Regions from separate parts of the Homo sapiens genome. Here region 1 is reported to be linked to region 2. Evidence: microRNA targets listed by miRTarBase, many of them from high-throughput screens and not tested one by one. Region 2 holds a microRNA gene; the other region holds the end of a gene's coding sequence.

Evidence for each region. Region 2 holds the annotated microRNA hsa-miR-6845-3p (CCUCUCCUCCCUGUGCCCCAG, at 1,562-1,582, shown strand). A microRNA usually pairs through its seed, bases 2 to 8, with sites in the 3' UTR of a target mRNA and lowers its output. Matches are read on the target gene's strand: a 7mer-m8 pairs with bases 2 to 8, a 7mer-A1 pairs with bases 2 to 7 and ends in A, and an 8mer does both.
Region 1: the mRNA of ATP2B1 is a reported target of hsa-miR-6845-3p. Seed matches in the 3' UTR shown: 7mer-A1 at 601-607.

What each region holds. Positions count from the first base shown.
Region 1 is chr12:89,588,262-89,591,261 of GRCh38, reverse strand. ATP2B1 (ATPase plasma membrane Ca2+ transporting 1) reads left to right here. Exons shown (of 21, transcript NM_001366521.1): 21 at 1-3,000. The coding sequence ends at 278. Among named protein-coding and RNA genes, the nearest start is that of POC1B-GALNT4, 64 kb to the right of the region's middle.
Region 2 is chr8:143,836,138-143,839,337 of GRCh38, reverse strand. It overlaps MIR6845 (microRNA 6845), which reads left to right and starts at 1,522; the gene lies at 1,522-1,582. It overlaps NRBP2 (nuclear receptor binding protein 2), which reads left to right. Exons shown (of 18, transcript NM_178564.4): 6 at 1-24; 7 at 143-166; 8 at 238-321; 9 at 400-455; 10 at 563-658; 11 at 1,583-1,715; 12 at 1,829-1,931; 13 at 2,039-2,089; 14 at 2,164-2,299; 15 at 3,158-3,200. RefSeq lists an enhancer at 1,790-2,517.

The sequences.
Region 1 (3,000 bases), not on the chromosome of region 2:
ATGAAGGGTTAGAAAAACCGGAATCAAGAAGTTCGATTCACAACTTTATGACACATCCTGAGTTTAGGATAGAAGATTCAGAGCCTCATATCCCCCTTATTGATGACACTGATGCCGAAGATGATGCTCCTACAAAACGTAACTCCAGTCCTCCACCCTCTCCCAACAAAAATAACAATGCTGTTGACAGTGGAATTCACCTTACAATAGAAATGAACAAGTCTGCTACCTCTTCATCCCCAGGAAGCCCACTACATAGTTTGGAAACATCACTCTGATTGTAAGCTGAATGTTAACACACTAGCTGCATTGTAAAGAAACAAATTGAAACTGGGTCTTTTCACATATTGTGATGGACAAGCTAGTATTCTTGTCTTTGGACTTCAACAGAAGACACACTTGTACGAATGTAGATTTATTTTTTTAAAAAAAAAAAAGCAAAGCTTTCTGCCAGACTGAGGGTGCTTTTTGGGGGGTGGGAGAAATGAACTGACAGATAAACAGTAACTCAGCGTAAGTGACCTGTGGATCATCAGTAGTACCCAAGCATGGTCCTGAACAGTGTATTAGCAGAGCTTTAGTTTATCTCAGTCCTGGATGGGAGAGAGAGGGAGGAGTAAAACTGGGCAAGACAAAGAGCCCTGGATCGTTGAATTGATAGTTTAATTTCTGCTGTTGGCTGTTAATAATTTGGATTATTTATGTTTATAAATGATACAGATCTGTTTACAAGGTTTGTAGATACTTTTTTTGTTCCTGTTCATAGATGGGAAGCTTCCTTATAACTGATGCAGAGAAAAATTAGTCCTTCAAATACTGCTGTATTTTCAGGAAAAAAAAAAAAAGGGGTGTTTCTATTGAAACTGTACTAAATTTTTGCCTACAATTTACCTTGTTAAATATTGTAGATAAATTGCTAATACTAATAGCCAAATAGATAACACTAATGCTTTGTTTAAAAAAACGAAAAAAACAAAACAAAACAAAAAAACATGAGCAGTGGTGTTCTAATGAAGTTATGACATCTGTCCTAATTAGTTTCTTAAATACATTTACTACTTAATGGTTTTGAAGCAACTGTTTAATTTTTAAAATTTTTGAAAACTTGCTAATAACCTTTTGTTCAGAATTTAGTAGATTGTTTAATGCAGGACATCAACTACATAATGAAAGATGCTTGAAATGCTTTTGTTATTTCAGGCAAATCAAATTAAATCAGACTATCAAACTACAAGAGAACCTTAGTCTTTTTTGTTTTTGTCTAAACATGTTAGTTTAGTGATGTCTTGGTGAACTGTGAGTGAACTGTATTGATTTTTCTAATCTTTAGAGACCTTCACACAGCATGAGGGCTGTTGGCATTTTGAAAAAGGTTAATAAGTAGAAGCATACATGTTTTCCTTTTGTTTTTGAAACTTGTTTGTAAACATAAATAAATATGCCCTTTTATTAAATAAATTCATGGCAATGTTTTTTTAAAAGACATTTCAGCTTCTTTACTCAGTTCTGCATATACAGTGCATCAGTCTGTTCTCTTTGACCACAATTGGAATACATTTCAAGATGGTAACAGCCCCATGAAGTACCGCTTTAATTCCTTGCTGGTAATCTAATAGAATCAGATTAAGAAAATTAACACAATTTTACCATTTGACATACTCTTCATTGAATTTAGTTTGTCTAAAATAGTCTCACAGGTAAAAAACATAACAACAATGACCACCATTGTCTTTGATACATTTATTTTAATTCTTAAGTGGCCAAATAACAGATTAGGTAAAATGAGATTACATGAAAAGGTTCTAAAATGATATATTTAGATGCAATAATTAACCATATGCTAGAATGCCCACCTCTAAGCCAATTGGATTCTTTAGCTCTCTTTTTCTTTCCTTCATCTACCTTCTTCTCTTTTTTGCCTCTGTCTTTACCCTTTAGAAACTGGCATGTGTTAGGGCCCAGATTTCACCAGATACACAATCCTCAGGCTGACATAAAGTTTACGAGGACTGCTACTATAACTGAGAGTGCTGACCAAGCAAAGAAACATTTAGTTGATGGTGCTTGATATTTTTGGTGGGTGGGGGAAATCTTTTTCTCACCATCAAATCTTTGCAGTAATCCTCTGCAGGTCTTAGAAACACATTGGCTCTGTCAGCATTTGTAATTGTACATTTATTCATCAGGTATTTATAGTGAATCATACTGTAAAAAAGAGGTAGCATGATATGCTGGAAAGCATATTAGACTAGGAGTCAAGACCTGGTTTCTAGTCTTGGTTTTGCCATTAATGTGCTGCATGATCTTGGGAAAATCATTTACCCTAAATAAGGGTGGTGGACTATCTTGAAGAACCCTTTCAACTCTAAAAATTGACCCTATCAACTGGAGAGCCCACAAGGCATAGGGAATAGAGAAAAGGGAAATGTTTTCAGTTTTCTTTTTTATTTTGGTTATGCTTAAATATGAATGTAATTACCAAAAGATTTAGAAGTGCATGTGCTTTGGAGGATTTGTATTGAGCTTTTACAGTATTCATTTTTCAACTCAAGGCAATGGCTTTCTACACCAACTCTAATCCATAAACGGGTCTTATGACATCTATGAAGTAGTAGCAAGACATGCTTAGTGTGTATTTCTCTCTTTGAGACACTGTAATTTCTACCAGAAATTTCCAGAGCATTATGTAGGTAGAAAAAAATGCAAGCAAGCTGTTAAAGATCTTGGATCCCATTATATAGTATGTATAGCTGAAATCTGTAATTCAATCACTTTTTCTCTTTTATCCTCTAACCAAAAAATTGTTTAATTTTGCATCCCAAATGTTTTTAATCTTTGTATATTTTTTAAAAATCCTTTTCTCCTCATCATTGCCTTTTTTGTGGTTGTAAATAGACTTACTTGCACTTTGAAGATGAGTTACTCCTTGTCATCTTACAAATATGTGATATGGTAATTTTCATAACAGATGTCAGTTTTGAACCAAGAATTGGTGATTTG
Region 2 (3,200 bases):
ACGGCCTCATCAAGATCGGCTCCGGTGCTGGCGGGGCAGGGCTGGGTGGGGGAACGGGGCAGGGGAAGGTGCCTGGAGCCAAGGGCAGAGGAGTTCTGATGCCCCAGCAGCTAACTCCACTCTTTCTCCCGCCCCTTGGCAGTGTGGCACCGAATCTTCTCCAATGGTAAGTGCGGACTTTGGGGGGACGGGGTCCTGGAGAGGTCCCCGCCCGCTCAGCTCTGCGCCCTCCCACAGCACTTCCAGATGATCTCCGAAGCCCCATCCGCGCTGAGCGAGAGGAACTTCGGAACCTGCACTTCTTCCCCCCAGAGTATGGAGGTGAGTGGTGCTGGGTCCGGGTGCCCCGTGCCTACCCTGCGCTTCTCTCCTACGTGTCCTGTGCTCTCTTCTGTTCAGAGGTGGCCGATGGGACCGCTGTGGACATCTTCTCCTTTGGGATGTGTGCGCTGGAGGTACTGCCCCCGCCCTCCACCTTGTGCTCTGCCCTCCTCCTAACTGTGCCCTGCCTGGCTCACCTGTGTGGTCCCTTCCCCATGCCTGACCTGGCTCTGTGCCCCAGATGGCTGTACTGGAAATCCAGACCAATGGGGACACCCGGGTCACAGAGGAGGCCATTGCTCGCGCCAGGCACTCGCTGAGTGACCCCAACATGCGGGTAAGCAGCTTGCCCTGCCCCTCCCCAGCTGGCTCACCGTGCTCAGCTAGGGCTAGCAAGGTGCTCCAGGCAGACCTGGGAGAACATCACAGTTTGTGCAGTTGAGGGGTATACCAGCTGACTGCACCCCTCCCAAAGAGGACCTCAGTGGGAGCACATACTGGTTCCAGGCCTGAAGGCCCTAAGGGGTCAGCACATTCTAAGGACAAGAAGGCAAGAGAGACCCTCCCTCTGTGGCTGCCATCACCATGCCCGTTTTATAAAGAAACCAAGGTTCAGAGGAGATGAGTCCTTTGCCCAAGGCTTTAGAGTGAGTGGTGGAGCCAACATCTGCACCTGGGTCTGCTTCACTCCAAGTCCTTGACTTTAAGCTTCCAGGAGGTGATGAGGCTCCAGCTTGTGGGGGGACATGGTGGGTGCCAAGCAGGCAAAAAGAGGTATGGGATGGAAGCTGCATCCACAGCCCCCTCTGCTCGGAGTCTAGACTTAACTCCATGGCCTCAGGAGATGGGGGTGCCTGGTCGGGGCTGGTGGCGAGCTGGAGCCGGGCTGGGCACGGATGTGGACAGAGTGGGGACCCATCAAGGTCGTCTCCAGTGTTGGGCCCGAGCTGAGCCGATCAAAAGGCCATGGGTAGGAGGCTTGCAGGTGTGACTTTAGGATCATGGCTTCTCCCCACGATTTTTTGGGGGTCGAGGGAAGCAGAGCATGGTGCTCCAATCCCAGAACCCAGCTGTCCTCAAGCTCAGAGGACCAGGTCCTGGCCTGGCTGCTGCTGCTGGGACTCCTCCCTATGGGCATCCCTGCATGTCCTGTGTGTCCCTGAGGAGGGACATGGGGAACTCAGGGGCCACCTCTCCTCGAACTGCGGGGCCAGAGCAGAGAGCCCTTGCACACCACCAGCCTCTCCTCCCTGTGCCCCAGGAGTTCATCCTTTGCTGCCTGGCCCGGGACCCTGCCCGCCGGCCCTCTGCCCACAGCCTCCTCTTCCACCGCGTGCTCTTCGAGGTGCACTCGCTGAAGCTCCTGGCAGCCCACTGCTTCATCCAGCACCAGTGTGAGCAGCAGGCCGGCCCGGGGGGTGGCTGGGGAGGTGGAGGTTGGGACGTGGAAGGGGCCCTGCAGGACCCACGGCCTGAGCACACCGCCTTGATGCTCTTGTGGCCGCAGACCTCATGCCTGAGAATGTGGTGGAGGAGAAGACCAAGGCCATGGACCTGCACGCGGTCTTGGCGGAGCTTCCCCGGCCCCGCAGGCCCCCGCTGCAGTGGCGGTGAGCAGTCAGCACCCAGAAGCCTCCCCTCCCCACACCTCCCCTCCCCGCACCTCCCCTCCCCTCGCCCCGGCCAGCCCCTCATGTGCCTCCCACTTCCATGCCAGGTACTCGGAAGTCTCCTTCATGGAGCTGGACAAATTCCTGGAGGATGTCAGGTGAGAACTGATGTAAGGTTGGGGGCCAGGCAGCTGTCAGGCCTGAACCCCCAGCCACCCTGTTGTGTCCCCAGGAATGGAATCTACCCACTGATGAACTTTGCAGCCACTCGACCCCTGGGGCTGCCCCGTGTGCTGGCCCCACCCCCGGAGGAGGTCCAAAAGGCCAAGACCCCGACGCCAGAGCCCTTTGACTCTGAGACCAGAAAGGTGAGTCCCCTCTCCTGCTGCTCAGTGCCATCCCTCAGACCTTCTAACAGCCAGATAAGAGGTGCCCCTCCTTCTCTTAGGGCCTGCATCCCCACAGCCCAGCTCTCCTCCTGGCTGCCAGAGACCAGATCCAGGCTGACCCCCTTGTGGGGGTCATGGGGGTTATAGGACAGGCTGGGCACTCTCCTTTTCCGGGAGGCTCCCTGTCCCCTCAGATCCTTCCCCTGCATCCTGCTGCCTGCCCTGAACCTACTCCAAGCATCCTTCCTCCAGAACTCACCCGGGCTCTTCCACCCTGCCAGCAATCTTCCCCCACCCCCGCACCCCTCCCACCCCCCCCACCCCTCCCATCCCCCACCTGGTGCTGATTCCCGGACATCTATGTCCTGGTGTCTCCCCAGACTTTTCCTGCAGCACCCCCTCCTGGCCAGGGGCCTCTCTCGGTGCAGTGCAGCCAGAATTCATGTCCTAACAGGCAAACTGCCTGCTCCTGGCTGCCAGCAGAGATCATGGGAGTCCTCAGCTGACACCCAGGCTCTGGGAGGCCTGATCCCGCAGGCACCGTGCACTTCGGCGCGGTCCTGTCCCGCCCAACCTCCCTTTCCCCACGCCCACAGTTCCCTCTTTGTTCAAGTTGTTCTCTCCGCGGTGAAAGCTCCTATTCAGCCTTCAGTACCCAGCCCCTAATGTCGACTCTTCTCGAAGCTTTCCTTAGCTTGCCAAGCCACTAGCAGTGAGATGGGCTCCTCTTAGAGATTCCCCCCTTTCCAGTCTTTGCTGTCCCTTCCCGGCCCCTTTGGGGCCGCGGCATGTGGTCTTGCTGCTGGGTTTGTGAGTCCCAGCCTTCCCCCGCTGCAGGTCATCCAGATGCAGTGCAACCTGGAGAGAAGCGAGGACAAGG